3 separate regions of the Homo sapiens genome follow, and all the other regions are linked to region 2. Evidence: fine-mapped expression QTL. A gene starts in region 2. Each other region holds a variant in brackets. All regions are shown on one strand. Distances are from middle to middle.

Region 1 (6,976 bases), 220 kb before region 2:
TGCAATTTTCTCCTTTGGCCAACTCTAACTTAGAACCATATGGGGAAGGGGTTTTTTTGTTTGTTTGTTTTGTTTTGTTTTCAGAGTCTTGCTTTGTTGCCCAGGCTCTGGAGTGCAGTGGTGCGAGCTCGGCTCACTGCAACCTCCGCCTCCCAGGTTCAAGCAATTCTCCTGCCTCAGCCTCCCAAGTAGCTGGGATTACAGGCACCCGCCACCACGCTCAGCTAACTTTTTTGTATTTTTAGTAGAGACAAGGTTTCGCCATGTTGGCCAGGCTGGTCTTGAACTCCTGACCTCAGGTGATCCACCTGTCTCAGCCTCCCAAAGTGCTGGGATTACAGGCGTGAGCCGCCGCACCCAGCCAACTTCATCACTTTCAATATGTCGTGCCACTCTATCCTAGCCTGTGAGGTTTCCACTGAAGTCTGCTGCCAGACGTATTGGAGCTCCATTGTATGTTTGTTTTTGTTTTTGTTTTTGAGACAGAGTCTCACTCAGTCACCCAGGCTGGAGTACAGTGACGAAATCTCGGCTCACTGCAACCTGCACCTCCCAGGTTCAAGCGATTCTCGTGCCTCAGCCTCCCGAGTAGCTGGGATTACAGGTGTGAGCCACTGCGCCTGGCCTCATGCCTGGCTAATTTTTTTTGTATTTTTAGTCGAGACGGGATTTCACCATGTTGCCCAGACTGGTCTGTAACTCCTGGCCTCAAGTGATTCACCCGCCTCAGCCTCCCTAAATGCTGGGGATTACAGACGTGAACCACTGCACACGGCCTCCATTGTAAGTTATTTGTTACTTTTCTCTTGCTGCTTTTAGGACCCTTTCTTTATCCCTGATCTTTGGGAGTTTGATTATTAAATGCCTTGAAGGTAGTCTTTGGGTTAAATCTGCCTAGTGTTCTATAACCTTCTCGTATTTGAATATTGATATCTTTTTCTAGGTTTGGAAAGTTCTCTGTTATTATCCCACTTAATAAACTTTCTATTCCAATCTCTCTACTTTCTCTTTACGGCCAATAAAACTCAGATTTTTCCTTTTTGTGGCTATTTTCTAGATCTTGTAGGTGTGCCTTATTCTTTTTTTTTTTTTTTTTTTTTTTTTGAGATGGAGTCTTGCTCTGTCTCCAGGCTGGAGCACAGTGGCACGATCTTGGCTCACTGCAACCTCCGCCTCCCGGGTTCAAGCAATTCCCCTGCCTCAGCCTCCCGAGTAGCTGGGATTACAGGTGCCTGCCACTACACCTGGCTAATTTTTTGTATTTTGGTAGAGATGGGGTTTCACCATGTTGGCCAGGATGGTCTCAAACTCCTGACCTCGTGATCCGCTTGCCTCGGCCTCCCAAAGTGCTGGGATTACAGGTGTGAGCCACTGCGCCTGGCCTTTATTCTTTTTTATTTTTTCTTTTGTCTCCTCTGGCTGTGTCTTGTCCTGTCTCATCTCTTTTCTCTTCTCTTCTGTTCTCTTCTGTTCTCTTCTCTTCTGTTCTCTTCTCTTCTTTCTTCTCTTCTCTTCTCCTCCTCTCCTCTCCTCTCTTCTCTTCTCTTTTTGAGACAGAGTCTCACTTTGTCGACCAGGCTGGAGTGCAGTGGTGCTGCAATCTTGGCTCACTACAACCTCCACTTCCTGCGTTCAATCAATTCTGGAGCCTCAGCCTCCTGAGTAGCTGGGATTACAGGCATGCACCACCATGCCCAGCTAATTTTTCTATTTTTAGTAGAGACAGGATTTCACTATGTTGGCCAAACTAGTCTCAAACTCCTGACCTCAGGTGATCCAACCACTTCAGCCTTTCAAAGTGCTGGGATTACAGGTATGAGCCACTGTGCCCGGCCTGACTGCATATTTTCAAATAGCCTGTCTTTGAGCTCACCAATTCTTCAGGTTGATCAATTCTACTGTTCAGAGACTGATGCATTCTTCAGTGTGTCAGTTGAATTTTTTCTACTTAATTTTTTTTTTTTTTTTTGAGACGGAGTCTCGCTGTGTCGCCCAGGCTGGGGTGCAGTGACACGATCTCCGCTCACTGCAAGCTCCACCTCCCGAGTTCATGCCATCCTCCTGCCTCAGCCTTCCGAGTAGCTGGGACTACAGGCGCCTACCACCACGCCTGGCTAATTTTTTTGTATTTTTAGTAGAGATGGGGTTTCACCGTGTTAGCCAGGATGGTCTTGATCTCATGACCTCGTGATCCACCTGCCTCGGCCTCCCGAAATGCTGGGATTACAGGTGTGAGACACCGTGCCCAGCCCCTTTCTGCTTAATTTTTAAAAATTATTTCAATCTGTTTGGTTAATTTATCCGATAGGATTCTGAATCCCTTCTCTGTGTTATCTTGAATTTCATTGAGCTTCCTCAAAACAGCTGTTTTGAATTCTCCGTCTGAAAGGTCACATAGCTCTGTCACAATGGGGTTGGTCACTGGAGCCTTGTTTAGTTCACTTGGTGAGGTCATGTTTTCCTGGATGGTGTCAATGCTTGTGGATGTTCGTCAATGGCTGGGCATTGATGAGTTCAGTGTTTATTGTAGTCTTTGTAGTCTGAGCTTATTTGAACCCATCCTTCTTGGGAAGGCTTGCCAGGAAATTGAGTGTTGTGAACTAAACTTTTGGTCACTGCAGCTGTATCTGCATTAGGGGGCACCCCAGGCTCAGTAATGCTGTGATTCTTGCAGCATCTTAGAGGTGCTGGCCAGGCGCAGTGGCTCACGCCTGTAATCCCAGCACATTGGGCAGCCTAGGCAGGCGGATCATCTGAGGTCGGGAGTTTGAGACCAGCCTGGCCAACATGGTGAAACCCTGTCTCTACCAAAAAATACAAAAATTTGCCAGGCGTAGGGGTGGGCGCCTGTAGTCCCAGCTACTTGGGAGGCTGAGGCGGGAGAATCACTTGCGCATGGGAGGTGGAGGTTGCACTGAGTGGAGATTGCAGCACTGCATTCCAGCCTGGGCGACAGAGTAAGACCCTGTCTCAAAAAAAAAAAAAAAAGGAATCTTAGAGGTACTGCCTCAGTGGTCTTGGTTAAGATTCAGGAGAATTCCCTAAATTACCAGGCAGAAACTCTTCTCTTCCCTTACTTTCTCCAAACAAACGCAGTCTCTCTATCTCTGTACGGAGCTGCCTGGGGCTGCTGGAGGGGTGACACAAGTACCCTTGTGGCCACCACCACTGGGACTGCACTGGGTCAGACCCAAAGCCAACACACCACTAGGTCTCACCCAGGGCCCGTGGCAACCACTACCTGGCTTCCACCAATGTTCACACAAGGCCCAAGGGCTCTTCGGCCAGCAGGTGGTGAAGCCTGCCGGGCTTGTGTCCTTCCCTTCAGGATGGTGAGTTCTCTCCTGGCCCAGGGCAGGTCCAGAAATGCCATCTGGGAGCCAGGGCCTGGAGACAGAAACCTTAGGAATCTACCTGGTGCTCTATTCTACTGTGGCTGAGCTGGCACCCAAGCCACAAGAAAAAGTCTTTCCTACTTGATATGGTTTGGCTGTGTCCCACCCAAATCTCATCTTGATTTGTAGCTCCCATAATTCCCCTATGTTATAGGGGGTACCCAGTGGGAGATAAGTGAGTCATGGGGGCAGTTTCCCCCATACTGTTCTTGTGGTATTGAATAAGTCTCATGAGATCTGATGGCTTTATAAGGGGAAACCCCTTTGGCTTGGTTCTCATTCTGTCTTGCCTGCCACCATGTAAGACGTGCCTTTTGGCCAGGCATGGCAGCTCACGCCTGTAATCCCAGCACTTTGGGAGGCCGAGGCGGGTGGATCATGAGGTCAGGAGATCGAGACCATCCTGGCTAACATGGTGAAACCCCGTCTCTACTAAAAACTACAAAAAATTAGCTGGGCGCCTGTAATCCCAGCTACTCTGGAGGCTGAGGCAGGAGAATGGCGTGAACCCGGGAGGCAGAGCTTGCAGTTAGCCCAGACTGTGCCACTGCACTCCAGCCTGGGTGACAGAGTGAGACTCCATCTAAAAAAAAAAAAAAAAAAAAAAAAAAAGACGTGCCTTTCAGCTTCTGCCATGATTGTGAGGCCTCCCCAGCCACGTGGAACTGGGAGTTCATTAAG[C/A]CTCTTTTTCTTTATTAATTACCCAGTCTCAGGTATGTCTTTATCAGCAGCATGAAAACAGACTAATACACCACTCTTCCCTCACTTTTCCTCACACAGGAGTCTCTCTCTGTGGCCACCACTGCTCCAGGCCCATGGCAGGTACTGCCTGGCTACTGCTGATGTTCACTCAAGGCCCAGGCCCTCTTCAGTCAGCTTGTGGTGAGTGCTGCCAGGCCTGGGTCTTTTCCTTCAGGGAAGACAGCTCCCCTCTAGCCCAGGGCAGGTCCAGAAATGCTGTGCAAGAGCCAAGACCTCAATTGGGGATGCCAGCAGCTGCTGGGTGCTCTACCCTACTGTGGCCAAGCTGGTGTCCAAGATGCAAGACAAAGTCTCCTTTACTCTTTCCTCTCCTTTCCTCAAGCAGGAGTCTTTCCCCAGGGCCACCACAGCTGGGAATGCGCTGGGTCACACCTGAAATCAGCACGGCACTGGGTCTCACCCAAGGCCTGCGGCGAGCACTCTCTGGCAACCACTGATGTTTATTCAAGGCCCAAGAGATCTTTAGTCAGCAAGTAATGAATCCTGCCAGGACTGGGTCCTTCCTTTCAAGGCAGCGGCTTCCCTTCTGGTCCAGGGTGTGTCCAAAAATGTCATCCAGGAGTTAGGGCCTGGAATGGGGGCCTCAGGACTCCGCCTGGTGCCCTATCCTCCTATGGCTGAGCTGGTATCCAAGTTGCAAAACAAAGACCTCTTGACTTTTCGTCTCCTCTTCTCAAGCAGAAGGAAGGAGTCTCTCCCGGAACTGCAAGCTATACTGCCTGGGGTTTGGGGCTCGGGGGCTCAAGCACTCCCTTGGCTGCCTCAGCCAATGTCTCAGTGGGCCTCATGCCCTCCAGGTCCACTTGTTCTGAGCCCAGCAAGGCACCAGGACTTGCCCAGAAATTGCAGTCCTTGTGGCCTGACTGCCTTTCAAGTTTATTTATTTATTTATTTATTTATTTATTTGAGATGGAGTCTTGCTGTTGTCCGGGCTGGAGTGCAATGACGTGCTCTCGGCTCACTGCAATCTCTGCCTCTTGGGTTCAAGCGATTCTCCTGCCTCAGCCTCCTAAGTAGCTGGGATTACAGGCGTGCGCCACCATTCCCAGCTAATTTTTGTATTTTTAGTAGAGACGGGGTTTCACCATGTTGGTGAGGCTGGTCTCGAACTCCTGACCTCGTGATCCGCCTGCCTAAGCTTCCCAAAGTGCTGGGATTACAGGCATGAGCCACCGCGCCCAGCCTCAAGTTGATTTAGGGTCCCAGAGCACTTTGGCCCGCAGTGGCTAGGCATGCCAGAACTCAGGTTCTCACCACTAGAATAGATGATTTCCCTCTGTCTAATGATCATTTAAATGCTCCCTCCATGGGTGGTGTCTGATTTCTGCCCCATGGTGCTTTCCACTGTAATAGAACAGCGCTGAGTTCCAATGCAAAGCCTCAAATCAGTCACTGAGCTCTCCCTACCCCAAATGCACAGATTCTCTCTCCTTGCCATCTGACTGCTGCCAGGAGATGTGGGAGGGGTGGCATTTTGGGGTAGCACCTCACCCCAAAAGCCCATTGGCTTAAAATAGCAGTCCCATCCCAAAATCTCAAACCACCCCAAAAGCTCATTGGCTTAAAATAGCAGTCAAATATGACATCTCATGGTTCAGTAGGTTAAGTGGGTTTAACCAGTCGATTCTTTTTTTTTTGAGATGGAGTCTCACTATGTCGCCCAGGTTGGAGTGCAGTGGCGCAATCTTGGCTCACTGCAATCTCTGCCTCCCCGGTTCAAGCAATTCTCCTGCCTCAGCCTCCCGAGTAGCTGGGATTACAGGTGCTGGCTACCACACCCGGCTGATTTTTGTTTTGCCTTTTTTTTTTTTTTTTTCTGAGATGGAGTTTTGCTCTTGTTGTCCAGGCTGGACTGCAATGGTGTGATCTCGGTTTACTGCAAACCTCCGCCTCCTGGGTTCAAGCGATTCTCCTGCCTCAGCCTCCCGAGTAGCTGGGATGACAGGCACCCACCACCATGCCCCAGCTAATTTTTTTGTATTTTCAGTAGAGACAGGGTTTCACCAAGTTGGCTAGGCTGGTCTTGAACCCCTGACCTCAGGTGATCCATGTGCCTCAGCCTCCCAAAATGCTGGGATTACAGGTGTGAGCTACTGCACCCTGCCAAATGAGCCAATGATTGGGTGGAGTTTCTCAACTAGTTGCATTCAGATGGCAGCTGGGGCTGGAGTCATCCAAAGGCTCAGCTGGGCTGGAAATCCAAGATGGCGTCTTACATGTCTGACATCTCAGTTGGGATGGCTAGATCAGCTGCGGCTGACCAGTTATCTATCTCTCTCTCCATGCTGCCTCTTGCCATGCCCAGCTTCAGCTTCTGCATAGCATGGCAGTCTCAGGATATTCAGAATTTTTTTTTTTTCCCCAGATGGAATCTCACTCTGCCACCAAGGCTAGAGTGCAGTGGCATGATCTTGGCTCACTGCAACCTCCACCTCCAGGGTTCAAGTGATTCTCGTGCCTCAGCCTCCTGAGTAGCTGGGATTACAGGCATGCACCACCATGCCTGGTTAATTTTTTTGTATTTTTAGTAGAGACAGGGTTTCTCCATGTTTGCTAGGCTGGTCTCAAACTCCTGACCTCGCGTAATCCCCCCACCTTGGCCTCCCAAAGTGCTAGGATTACATGTGTGAGCTGCCATGCCTGGCTGAAAATAATAGATTTATACCTAACCATACTAATAATTGCATTGACTCTAAATTATGTAAACATCCAATTATAAGACAGAGATTTCAGACTAAATGAAAAAGCATGACCCAACTCTATGCTGCCCACAAGAAATTGTGTGTGTGTGTGTGTGAGACGGAGTCTTGCACTGTCGC
Region 2 (6,618 bases):
CCTGGGGTGAGGAAACAGAGCTACACCAATACAGCCACAGCCCCAGCAAGTAGAGCTGGGGCACTCTCAACCCACACACTGCTGTCGAATGAATGAATGAATGAATGAATGAATGGGGAGAACAAAGTGGCTGGAACTCAGACCTCCTTGCACTGGAGTCATCCCTAGAACAGCGTTTCCCACTGAAAACCTCAAGGCCTCACTTCTCCGTCTCCCTCCTCACCTGCCGAGGGCTCACAATGATGCTGTTGGATTTTGCCCCGGGTTTCAGGGCCTGGTTGGGCGTCTCTCCTGCCAGGGGCTCTGACCCTGTGGGGCACGTGGCCCCAGCCCCTTCCAGAGGCTGTGAGATGGCATATTCGGCGTAGGTCTGAGGGGCCGCCTGGGCCGAGGTGTCCACAGTGGGAAGGCTCTGTGTAGATCGGAATAAGGGCTTGGCCTGTGGGGAGAAAGGGAGTTTGCAGGGGACTGGTTGGGGTGAGCAGAGGACATCTGAGGCCCTGTGAGTTCCTCTCCCCTTTCTTTTTCTTTTTTTGAGACAGTCTTGCTCTGTCACCCAGACTGGAGTGTAGTGGCACTATCTTGGCTCATTGCAACCTCCACCTCCCGGGTTCAAGCAATTCTGCCTCAGCTTCCCAAGTAGCTGGGATTACAGGTGCCCACCACCACGCCCAGCTAATTTTTTTTTTTTTTTTTTGAGATGGAGTCTTGCTCTGTCACCCAGGCTGGAGTGCAGTGGCGTGATCTCGGCTCACTGCAACCTCCGCCCCCCAGGTTCAAGCGATTCTCCTGTCTCAGCCTCCCAAATAGCTGGGACTACAGGCGTGTACCACCACGCTGGCTAATTTTTGTATTTTTAGTAGAGACAGGGTTTCAACATGTTGTCCAGGCTGATCTCGAACTCCTGACCTCAGGTGATCCGCCCGCCTCGGCCTCCCAAAGTCCTGGGATTACAGGTGTGAGCCACAGCACTTGACCCCTCTCCCCTCTTCAGGGCTGCCCATCCTCCTTCCTCCTAATGTCCCTTCCAGAAGGCTGAGAGCTCAAAATCTGAATTCAGCCACTTCTCCCCCACTCCTCAGCCTCCACTCTGGTCCCAGCCACCAGCGTTTCACCCTTGGACCACTGAAGTCACTTCCTCACCAGCTCCTTGCCCACACCCTCGCCCCCTGGAAGTCTGTCCCCTAACTAAGTCCTCATGTCCCTCCTCTGCTCAGAGCTGGTGGGTGGCTCCTGCCTCAGAGTGAAAGCCAAAGCTGTCACCATCACCCACAAGGCTCTAGATCTGTCCCTGCTCCTTGCCTCAGAAACTACACCTTCTACCACTTCTCCTTGCTTTCTCTACTCCAGCCCCACCAGACTTCGTTCTGCCCTTGAACACGGCAGGCTCTCTCTGACCTCAGGGCTTTGGCACTGGCTGTTCCCTCTACCCCAGATGTCGCCATGGCTCACTCCCTCACCTCTTTCACGTCTCTACCAAGATGTCACCTCCTCAGAGAGGCCCTCCCTTGACCTTCCTATCTAAAGTAGGAAGGGGCCAGGCATGGTGGCTCATGCCTGTACATCCCAGCACTTTGGGAGGCCGAGGTGGGCGGATCACTTGAGGTTCGAGACCAGCCTGACCAACATGGTGAAACCCGTCTCTACTAAAAATACAAAAATTAGCCAGGCGCGCTCCTGTAATCCCAGTTACTCGGGAGGCTGAGGCAGGAGAATCGCTTGAACCCAGGAGGCAGAGGTTGCAGTGAGCCGAGATGGTGCCAGTGCACTCCAGCCTGGGCAAAAGAGCGAGACTCTGTCTCAAAAAAATAAATAAATAAATAAATAAATAGAGTAGGAAGGTCCTCTCCCCCATCATGCCCTACATCCTTAGCCCACTTTCCTTTTCTTCATAGCCAATGCTCATCACCCGTCGATTGTTTTCCCTTGGGAAGGAGATTTCAATATTGCCAGGTCCTTCCATTTACCAAAATATGTCTAAAGTGTAGATTTTTTTAAGATTGCAAAACCTGGCGATTCTTAAACACGAGCAATAAATTCATGTCTTGAAAAATCAGGGTGCTGGCCTCGTAAAACACATCAGGGGCTACCTGCTGAATGCCAGTGTCTGGCCTCTGCCTTAGCCCTCTCTTAGAACCACCCATCCATTTCACAGATGGGGAAACTGGGACCTGGGGAGGACCAAGGACTGTTTCCCCAAGTCGTCCGTGGCCCCCAAATCCACTAACCCACACCCTGGTCCCACAGGCCCCATCCTATCCTCTTCGTCCTAACAGCCCCCAGCCTCCCAGGGGCCCCGCATCTCCTTGTCCTACCACTCCAGGAGGGACCTCATCCTCGTCGAGGGGTATCACAAATTTCTTCCTTGCTGGCGGCCCTGAGGGCTGGGGCACCCCCTCTTTGTCCTTCCCAGGGTCCATCTGGAGCCTGAAAGGGAAGGTGCCAGGAGCGAGTGAGCCACTGGCGTCTACGTTCTCATCCCGCAGCAGGAACCCCCCACTCACAGCCGTCCCCCACAAAACTCCGAGAGCTCCATAGCGTCAGGTCCCCAACACCCAGCGCTAGAGGCTCTGTAACGCCACGCCCCTTTGACCTCCACCTTCGGCTCGCCCCGCCCCTTACAGGTCCACAAGTCCCATCGCTCCGCCCCTCGCCCCCACCGGATTCTATTGGCTCCGTCCCCACCATCCCCCGCCTTCCGTTCGTCCGGCCCCCGAGGCTAGCATCTGGACGCCCTCCCCACGCCTGGCCTTGTCCATCTCTCAGACTCGGCAATGATTGGCTTCCGCGGCGCCAATCTCCACCCGCAGTCTCCGCCTCCCGCACCTGTGGTCCGGGCCTCACGGTTTCAGCGCCGCGAGGCCTCACCTGCTGGTCTTGGAGCCTCAAGGGAAAGACTGCAGAGGGATCGAGGCGGCCCACTGCCAGCACGGCCAGCGTGGCCCAGGGCTCGCAGCACTTCCGGCCTCTCTGGCCCCGCTCCCCAGGAGAGTAGAGCATAGAGCAGGGCGATCTCTGTACAACTCTCTATGGTTCTGGAGGACCGCGGAGGTCGTGGGAGGAGAGAGATGTGGCCTGAGGATCTGGCTCCCAAACTGTTAAGTTTCAAAGCCCTTACTGAGCGCTTCTGTGTGCCCAGAATCCTGGCAGGGCTCAGTGGAGAACAGATCGCAGGAGATCCAACTTGGTCCCTCCTCTCAGTAAGGAGAGACTTAAGTTTGAATCCAACTCAGACATTGACTTGGCTTCAGTTTCCTCATTCATTCATTTATTCCACACCTATTCCCCCCACGCGCTTCCTCTCTTCCCGGTCCTGTGCGAGTCCGTGCTGGTGACACAGCAGTGACCAACGACAGCCCCGTGTTGTCCTCCCGGAGCTTACGGTTCAGTAAGGGACACAGACACGTTCCCAGTGCTGACCCAGAATGGGCAGGTCTGGGATGGGAGATCCCGGGAGAGCCGTGGGATGGGGGTCAGGGGGAGCGCCTGACTCAGCCCCGGAGTCCGGAAGGGCTTCCTGGAGGAAGGGACATCTGAGCAGGGGCCTGGCTGATGAGTTAGTATTAGTCACTTCCTGAAAGGATAGTATCACACTGTTCTAACTTGCAGCTCTCTGATTACTAAGGAAATGGAATGTTTTTTGTGAAAGTATTGGTCTTGTAAATTTTGTCTTCTGTGAATTGCTTGCTCATATTCCTTGTCCATTTTTAAAATGGGTTGTATGGCTTTTTTATTACTATTAATTTCTAGGGGTACTTTATGGATTCTGATTCTAATCCTTAGTTACCCATATTGCAAACATTTCCTCCTAGTTTCTACTTTGGGCTTTAACTTTAGTTATTTTTGGCACAGAAGTTATTTGTGTTTATGCGCAACTATTTATCAATCTGTTCCGTTCTGACTTTTGCTTTTGGTGTGTTAAGAGCCCTGCCATAACCCAGGGTCATAATGATAAATTCTTTTTTTTCTTTTTTTTTTTTTTTTCGAGACGGAGTTTCGCTCTTATTACCCAGGCTGGAGTGCAATGGCGCGATCTCAGTTCACTGCACCTCCCCCTCCCGGGTTCAAGCGATTCTCCTGCCTCCTTAGTAGCTGGGATTACAGGCATGTGCCACCATGCCCGGCTAATTTTTTTTTTTTTTTTTTTTTTTTGTATTTTTAGTAGAGACGGGGTTTCACCATGTTGGCCAGGCTGGTCTCAAACTCCTGACCTCAGCTGATCCTGAGGTCACTTTGTGACCTCCCAAAGTGCTGGGATTACAGTGCACGGCTATAATGATATATTCTATCATTTCTTTTATCTACGTAAAAGATAAAAGCCCCGTGTTGTCCTCCCAGAGCTTACAGTTCAGTGAGGGACACAGACACGGTCCCAAACAGTAATGACCTAGAATGAGCAGGTCATCTGGCTTTAATCTATGTAAGATTTATTTATTTATTTATTATTTTTTGAGATGGAGTTTTGCTCTTGTTGCCTAGGCTGGAGTGCAATGGAGCAATCTAGGCTCACTGCAACCTCCGCCACCCACATTCAAGCAGTTCTCCTGCCTCAGCCTCCCAAGTAGCTGGGATTACAGGCTAACTTTTGTATTTTTAGTAGAGACGGAGTTTCACCATGTTGGCCCTGCTGGTCTCGAACTCTTGACCTCAAGTGATCTGCCCACCTCAGCCTCCCAAAGTGCTGGGATTACAAGCATGAGCCACGGTGCCTGGCCAAGATTTATTTTTGAAAGTGCACCGAGGTCGTTGTTTATGAGTGATGTAACCAATTGTCTCAAGTTGACCAAAGGTAGATCTTTTCTCCACTGTTCTGAAATTCTACCTTTATCACATACCAAATTCCCATACACACACGTCTATTTCTGACATTTCTGTTATGTTCATTGATCTTTTTATTTATTCTTGCCTGCATGTACATGACATCCCTCTGTTTCTTTGTTCACATCAGTCTTTCATCTATGGGTGTCTATCTGTGTCTACATTTTCCCATTTTACTTAATTTTTTTTTTCTGGGCATGGTGGCTAATGTCTGTAATCCTAGCACTTTGGGAGGCCTAGGCGGGTGGATCACCTGAGGTCAGGAGTTCGAGACCAGCCTGACCAACATGGAGAAATCCTATCTCTATTAAAAATACAAAATTAGAGTCCCGGTGCAGTGGCTCACACCTGTAATCCCAGCACTTTGGGAGGCCGAGACAGGCGGATCACGAGGTCAGGAGTTCAAGACCAGCCTGGCCAATATGGTGAAACCCCGTCTTTACTAAAAATACTAAAATTAGTTGGGCGTGGTAGCGCACACCTGTAGTCCCAGCTACTCAGGAGGCTGAGGCAGAAGAATCGCTTGAACCTGGGAGGCGGAGGCTGCAGTGAGCCGAGATTGTGCCACTGGACTCCAGCCTGGGTGACAGAGCCAGACTCTGTCTCAAAAAAAAAAAAAAAAAAAAAAATTAGCCGGGCATGGTGGCACATGCCTGTAATCCCAGCTACTCAGGAGGCTGAGGCAGGAGAATTGCTTGAACCCTGGAGGCAAAGGTTGCGGTGAGCTGAGATCGCACCATTGCACTCCAGCCTGGGCAACAAGAGTGAAACTCCATCTCAAAAAAAAAAAAAAAATTTTTTTTGAGACAAGGTCTTGATCTATTGCCCAGATTTATTGTCCTGAACCTTGCTTACCTCAAATGCCTTTTTCTTTTCACCCTAACAATTGAAATCCAGAATTCTAGGCTGGGTGCGGTGGCTCATGCCTATAATCCCAACAATTTAGGAGGCCAAGGTGGGCAGATTGCTTGGGCTCCAGAGTTCAAGACCAGCCAGGGCAACATGACAAAACCCCATCTCTACAAAAAAACACAAAAATTGGCTGGGCAAGGTAGCTCATGCCTGTAATCCCAGCACTTTGGAAAGCTGAGGCAGGAGAATCACTTGAACCCGGGAGGTGGAAGTTGTAGTGAGCCAAGATCACGCAATTGTACTCCAGCCTGGGCGACAAAAGCGAAACTCCATCTAAAAAAAAAAAAAAAAAAAAAAAGCTATGTGTGTTGGTGTGCACCTGTAGTCCCAGATACTCAGGAGGCTGAGGAGGGAGAATTGCTTGAGCCCAGGAGGCAGAGGCTGCAGTGAGCTGCGATTGTGCCACTGCACTCCAGCCTGGGTGACAGAGTGAGACCAAAAACAAACAAAACAAAACAAACAAACAAACAAAAAAACGAAAGAAAAGAAAGGAAAGAAAAAGGAAATCCAGAATCCTAGGTTCTTAGTATTGTTTCTTGCAATGTTAGAAGATATAGGGGCCAGGAGAGGTGGCTCACGCCTAGTAGGAAGGAAGGAGAATCAGTCTAATAGTCTCATCACTAGGTATAATTTTCCCCCAGGAGGCCGGGCACAGTGGCTCACGCCTGTAATCTCGGCACTTTGGGAGGCCGATGGAAGGTGGATCACGAGGTCAGGAGTTCAAAACCAGCCTGGCCAAGATGATGAAACCTTGTCTCTACTAAAAAATACAAAAAAAAAATTAGCCGGGCGTGGTGGCGGACGCCTGTAATCCCAGCTACTCGGGAGGCTGAGACGGAGAATTGCTTGAACCCAGGAGGCGGAGGTTGCAGTGAGCCGAGATTACAC
Region 3 (6,976 bases), 870 kb before region 2:
CAGTGCGGTCATGATGGGGGTATCCGGGCCATCTGAACAAGGAGAAAGACTTCCTAATTAGGAAGAGTATGAGAAGTAAGGACCACCCCCCTAGATTGTGCATTTCAGCTCAGTGTTGGAAGCCTGACATGTTGAGGGAGGCACACAGCACCACAACGTAAAAGTTTGTCAGAGGAAGGAAGGGAGGGAGGGGAGGAAGGGAGGGAGGGAGGGAGGGAGGGAGGAAGGAAGGAAGGAAGGAAGGAAGGAAGGAAGGAAGGAAGGAAGGAAGGAGGGAAAGAACAAACGAACCATGGCTGGCGGTAGCCTCCCTCTTGTGTCTATTACCCTCCTTGATCTTTGAAGACTGTCAGCTCCATGAGGACAGGGATATGCTTGTCAGTTATGTTAACTGCTTTGACTAGAAATAACACCCAATACACACAGCACACAGTGGATGCTCAGTAGATGCTTTCCCAAAAGTAGAGAGACAGAGGGGCAGAGAGAGAAAAACACATGGGTTCAAGTTCTTATCTTTCTTCTTGACCACGGTGAGATCTTGGGTGAGCCCTTCCCCTTTCTTAATCTCAGTTTTCTTGTTTGTAAAATGTGGTGTCTCTGAAAGTCCTTCCAGTTCTGCAAATATTTATGTTGTCGAGTCTGGAATTTCTGGGATCTTGGCTTCCTACAATCTCCATCTACCTTTGTACCTGAGATTGAATGGGTCTGAAAGTCCTTAATTGGGTACATAGTAGAAGCTCAATACATGCCCCTTAAATAAATAAATGATGATAAACTTCTGAGAGAATAGTCATTGTAAACGTCTATTAAGCACTTAGTGTGCAGAGTAGTGGAAAAGAATAAAGAAAAAAAGAGAAAAAAAGAAGCACTTGCTATGTTCCAGGCACTATTCTAAGTTCCTTAAATGAACTAACTCACTTAATCCTCATAATCACCCAATGAGATAGATAATATTATGATTCTCACTTTGCAGATGAGAAAACTGAGGACATAGAAAAGTGAAGTGACTTGCCCAAGGACACCTAGCTAAGAAATAGCAGGGACGGCTGGGCGCAGAGGCTCACGCCTGTAATTCTAGCACTTTGGGAGGCTGAGGCAGGAGGATTGCTTGAGCTTAGGAGTTCAAGACTAGGCTGGGCAACATAGTGAGACTTTGTCTCTACCAAAACTTGTAAAAATTAGCCAGGCATAGAGGCATGTGCCTGCGATCCCAGCTACTCCGGTGGCTGAGGCAGGAGGATTGCTTGAGCCCAGAAGGGCAAGGCTGCAGTGAGCTATGATCCAGCCACTGCACTCCAGCCTGGACAACAGAGTGAGACCATGACTCAATAAATAAATAAATAAAAGAAACAGAAGCACTAGGATTTGAACCAAGGCAGTCTGTAGAGTCTCTGATTTAAACGCTAAGCTATAAATCATGGATGAACCAGTAGATAGTTGGGCTGGAGGTTCTGTGTGGATCAGAGGTGAGTCAGAGCAAAGAAACCCAGACTTACAAGCCACGCCAACCACGAGGGCTTCACTGAGCCTGGATCCCAGGTGGTTCCTGGCCTCACAGTGGTAGGTGCTGGAGTCATTGCGTGTGACTGTGGGGATGGTGAGGACCCTGCCATCTCTGGAGATTACTGGTCCATCCCCTTCCTGAATCACCTCAAGGTTCAGAAACCACTGGAATGTCCTGTCATTGTTTGGAGAAATGCATGTCAAATTCAAGGAGTCTGTGTGCTCCAGAGGGGCCAAGTTCTGGGCTTCCACCGGGGGCTGGTGCAGCTTCTCTGGGGAGAAGGAAAGAGAAAGAATGGCGTTATAGGACATGGGAGGATCTGGAACCCTAGGAATGATCAGCAGCACGAATAGGCTGGGGACCTTGGAAACACCAGCGTTGGCTTTGCTGTTTCCAAGATGACCAATAAGCACACACACACACACACACACACACACACACACAGCCAACAGCTCTACTTCCGGAAGTTCTTAACTGTCTAGAGATCCCAGATCCTCTCCCCAGAAATACACCCAATAACACACACACCACACAAATACCTACACATTTGTATATAATTTCAAGGGGTTATGGGGCACTCTAAAGACCAACTTTAGATTTCAAGTGAGGAATCTTATACCTAGATTACAAATTAGTAAATATCTTTCTTTTTTGAGACAGGGTCTTGTTCTGTTGCCCAGGCTTCAGTGCAGTGGCACTAACACGGCTCACCATAGTCTCAACCTCCCAGGCACAAGCGATCCTCCCGCCTCAGCCTCCTGAGTAGCTGAGATCCATGCATGTCACCATCCTCAGCTACTTTTGAAAAACTTTTGTAGGGTGGGGTCTTGCTGTGCTGCCCAGGCTGGTCTCAAACTCCTGGGCTCAAGTGATCCTCCTGTCTTGACCTCCCAAAGTGCTGGCCTGACAGGAAGTAAATATCTTTCTTGAAGTCAACTTAGAAATACAAGTTGAAAGTTACACATGTTTATATAACTTTTGACCCAATGATTACACTTTTAAAAACAGTTTTATTGAGGTATAATAAGCAAATAAAAATGTTGTATGTTCAAAGTGTACAACTTGATGTTTTGATAGTTGATCTCTACAATCAAGCTAATTAATATATCCATCACCGGCTGGGTGTGGTGGCTCAGGCCTGTAATCCCAGCTCTTTGGGAGGCTGAGGAAGGTGGATCACCTGAGGTCAGGAGTTTGAGACCAGCTTGGCCAACATGGTGAAACCCCGTCTCTACTAAAAAATACAAAAATTAGCCAGGTGTGGTGGCACGCACTTGTAATTCCAGCTACTTGGGAGGCTGAGGTGGGAGGATCTCTTGAACCTGGATGGTGGGGGTTGCAGTGAGCCGAGATCATACCACGACACTCCAGCATGGACAACAGAGTGAGACTCCATCTCAAAAAAATGAAAAAAAAAAAAAGGAAGAAAGGAAAAAAAACTGCTGGATGCTTGCTTGCATTGCTTCCATTGCTTGCACTGCAAGCATTATCTCATGTACTACTGGTACCACCCTGTGCTGTAAGGACTATTAATATCCCATTTTACAACAGGTAAACTGAGGTTTATGTTGGGTAAGTGAGTTGTGAAAAACCAAGTTGTAAGTGGGTGAATCATTTTTAAACTCAGGGCTATGTGACTCCAAACTTCATAACCACTGTGAAATAAATACTATGTAGAAAAATCTATTTTTAAAAAATCTCAGAAAATGAAGCAGGCACAGTTTTCCCTATTCCATCCCGAGCACAGTTAAAAACCTTGGATATTATCACTTCTACACTGCTGGTGGGAATGTAAACTAGTACAGCCGTTATGAAAAACAGTGTGGAGATTCCTTAAACAACTAAAAGTAGAACTACCATTTGATCCAGCAGTCCCACTACTGGGTATCTACCCAGAGGAAAAGAAGTCATTACACAAAAAAGATACTCGCACACGCATGTTTATAGCAGCACAATTCACAATTGCAAAATCGTGGCACCAACCCAAATACCCATCAATCAACAAGTGGATAAAGAAACTGTGATATATATATATATGTTCATATATACGTTCATATATATATGTTCATATATACGTTCATATATACGTTCATATATACGTTCATATATATACGTTCATATATGCGTTCATATATGCGTTCATATATATACGTTCATATATGCGTTCATATATATACGTTCATATATGCGTTCATATATATACGTTCATATATACGTTCATATATATACGTTCATATATGCGTTTATATATACGTTCATATATGCGTTCATATATATGCGTTCATATATATGCGTTCATATATACGCGTTCATATATACGTTCATATATACGCGTTCATATATACGCGTTCATATATACGCGTTCATATATACGCGTTCATATATACGTTCATATATACGCGTTCATATATACGTTCATATATATACGTTCATATATACGTTCATATATATACGTTCATATATATACGTTCATATATATACGTTCATATATATACGTTCATATATACGTTCA[TATATACACGTTC/T]ATATATACGTTCATATATACGTTCATATATACGTTCATATATACGTTCATATATACATTCATATATATGTTCATATATACGTTCATATATATGTTCATATATATATATATATATATATATATATATATGAATGATGGAATACTACTCGGTCATAAAAAGGAATGAATTAACAACATTTGCAATGACCTGGATGAGACTGGAGACTATTATTCTAAGTGAAGTAACTCAGGAATGGAAAACCAAACATCATATGTTCTCACTGATATGTGGGAGCTAAGCTATGAGGACACAAAAGCGTAAGAATGATACAATGGACTTTGGGGACTTGGGGTGAAGAGTGGGAGGGGAGTGAGGGATGAAAGACTACAAATAGGGTGGAGTGTATACCGCTCAGGTGATGGGTGCACCAAAATCTCACAAATCACCCCCAAAGAACTTACTCATGTAACCAAACCGACCTGTACCCCAATAATCTATGGAAAAATAAATAAAATAAAATAAAGCAATAGAGAAAAAGCCTCAAAAATATGAACAGAACATCATTGTTCTATGGGAATAATATCAAGCAGTCTATCACAGGTGCAGCTAAAGAATGAATAAATAAATAAATAAATAAATAAATAAATAAATAAATAAAAATAGATGACTCGGAAAGGAGGAGAGAATATGGCAGACTGGCTGCGGATCTCAAGACCGGAGAAAGCACATGGTGGTGAGTTTTCTGGACTTTCTTTGCGCCTCACAGATCCCAGACTGGGAGCTGGAGAGCCTGGCAATCTAGAAATGCCAATGAGTGTAGATCCAAAAGAGGCTCAAGCAAAGCCTGCTCTAGCCAAAGGACAAGGAGCAGTAGCCTGACAAGATTTGCTAAAGACAGCAAATCTTTACAAGATAATCACTTTGCTGCTGTGATATCCCACAGAAAAGCCTGGACATTTACCCTTGCCAGCTGTACAGAGACACCCATCCCCTCCACCAGGCTGAATAAGCAGCTGGGACTGTCATCCTTGCCCAGCAGTAATGAGCACCGACCCTGCAGTGTCCATTGAGGCCACTAGGGAGCGGTAACGAGGCGTCTCTGCCCCTTCTGGGCAAGATGGTATCAGAGGATGTCTCAGTGGAAAGCCTGAACTCTGCTAACTGCCCAGAGTAACAGTTGCCCCGCCCCACCTGGAATGTCAACAGAGGCCAAATGGGGAACCTGGACCTCCATCCCCACTGGCTATAACAAGATGGTGCCCTTTTTGCCCCACCAGCAAGATGTCAGAGGAGACCTGCTATAACAGAAGATTTAAATGAGATCCAGCGTCTCATAATTTCCAAAATGTCCAGGGTGTTGTTGAAAATCACTTGTCATACACCTACATGTAATCCCAATACTTTGGGAGGCCGAGGTGGGAGAATTGCTTGAGCTCAGAAGTTCGAGACCAGCGTGGGCAACATAGTGAGACCCCATCTCTACAAAAAAAAAAAAAAAATTGACTGAATGAGAAAGACATTCCTGAAATTAAATGAGGAAAGACAATTAATAGAGATGACATGGATTGTTGTTGATGTTTTCTAACTTGGTCTTGAGTTTTCTAGGGGATTTAGTTGTAGATGTTTAAAGTGTAATTTTCACTGGTTACTTCTTTATCTTGGTGGTCGGCCTAATGCCTACATGTCTGACCTGTGACCAGGTGTCCCTCTCACAGTACACTTATTTTTTGTGTGTTTGTTTGTTTTTGAGACAGAGTCTCACTCTGTCACCCAGGTCGGAGCGCAGTGGTATGGTCTTGGCTCACTGCAACCTCCACCTCCCAGGTTCAAGCAATTCTCATGCCTCAGCCTCCTGAGTAGGTGGGATTACAGACATATGCCACTACACCCAACTAATTTTTTTTTTTTTTTAAGTACAGACGGGGTTTCACCATGTTGGCCAGGCTGATCTTGAACTCCTAGCCTCATGGGATCCTCCCACCCCAACCTCCCATAGTGCTGGGATCACAGGCATGAGCCATCACACCTGGCCACAGTACACTTGTTTATAATGGCAGACATTCTTAAGGCTTTTGTCTGACCTGTGTCCAGTTTATTTCTACAAAGAGAGCCATGCTTTAGGACAGCCCTGACCAGGAAAGACGTTAGGTTTGGATGTGTCAGTCAGGTGAGACACAGAGGAGGCAGCACAACAAAACACATGAAATAACAGGGGCAGTTTATTACTCACAGATTCCGGAGAAGACAGAGCAGCACATCTCACAGAGCCAACAGGAAGAAGAGAGTTGTCGGGACACGCACACTCAACCAGCGGGTGGGGAGCAAGAAAGAGAAAGTGAGAGACCTGTGGGCTGATGCTTTTATTGGAGTCTAAGGAAACTGCTCAGGCAGTTTTCCACAGAGAATTCTAACTGGGTTTAGAGCCAGCAGGCACAAGTTGCATGGAGTCACACTGACTGGGAGGTGATCACTGTGGCATATCTGCACAGCCTATGCAGGGTCTGGGGGTCAGGGGGACAGTCAGGTGAGTTATATCTAGCTGTTGCATAAGGAGGTGGTTAACAGGAAGTGGTAGTGTAAGGCAGGTATCTGGATCTGCCACATTAAGGATCTGGGGGGAGGCGGAGACCTGGAAACTGTGTCAAGGGTGACTAAGCTTTTCTTATGGTATGAGAAAGTCCAACTTATATTCAAAATAGATACTGAGCCAGGCACAGTGGCTCACATCTGTAATCCCAACACTTTGGGAGGCTGAGGCAAGAGGATTGCTTGAGCTCAGGAGTTTGAGACCAGCCTGGGCAACACAGTGAGACCTCCGTCTCTACAAATAAAATTTCAAAAAATTAGCTGGGTGTGGTGGCATACGCCTATAGTCCCAGCTACTTGGGGGACTGAGATGAGAGGTTCACTTGAGCCCAGGAGCTCGAGGCTGCAGTGAGCCGTGATTGCACCACTGCACTCCAGCCTG

Evidence for each region.
Region 1: its variant is fine-mapped to the expression of ERCC1 in atrial appendage (GTEx, PIP 0.96).
Region 3: its variant is fine-mapped to the expression of ERCC1 in monocytes (BLUEPRINT, PIP 0.95).

What each region holds. Positions count from the first base shown.
Region 1 is chr19:45,198,231-45,205,206 of GRCh38, forward strand. It overlaps a transcript of BLOC1S3 not described here. Among named protein-coding and RNA genes, the nearest start is that of BLOC1S3, 23 kb to the left of the region's middle. The variant C/A (reference allele first, on the strand shown) is at 4,077.
Region 2 is chr19:45,420,955-45,427,572 of GRCh38, forward strand. ERCC1 (ERCC excision repair 1, endonuclease non-catalytic subunit) reads right to left here and starts at 2,963. Exons shown (of 10, transcript NM_001983.4): 1 at 2,827-2,963; 2 at 2,316-2,427; 3 at 224-439. The coding sequence starts at 2,420. RefSeq lists enhancers at 2,949-3,038, 3,099-3,148, 3,397-3,691.
Region 3 is chr19:44,547,402-44,554,377 of GRCh38, forward strand. It overlaps the pseudogene CEACAM22P. Among named protein-coding and RNA genes, the nearest start is that of CEACAM20, 21 kb to the left of the region's middle. The variant TATATACACGTTC/T (reference allele first, on the strand shown) is at 4,017.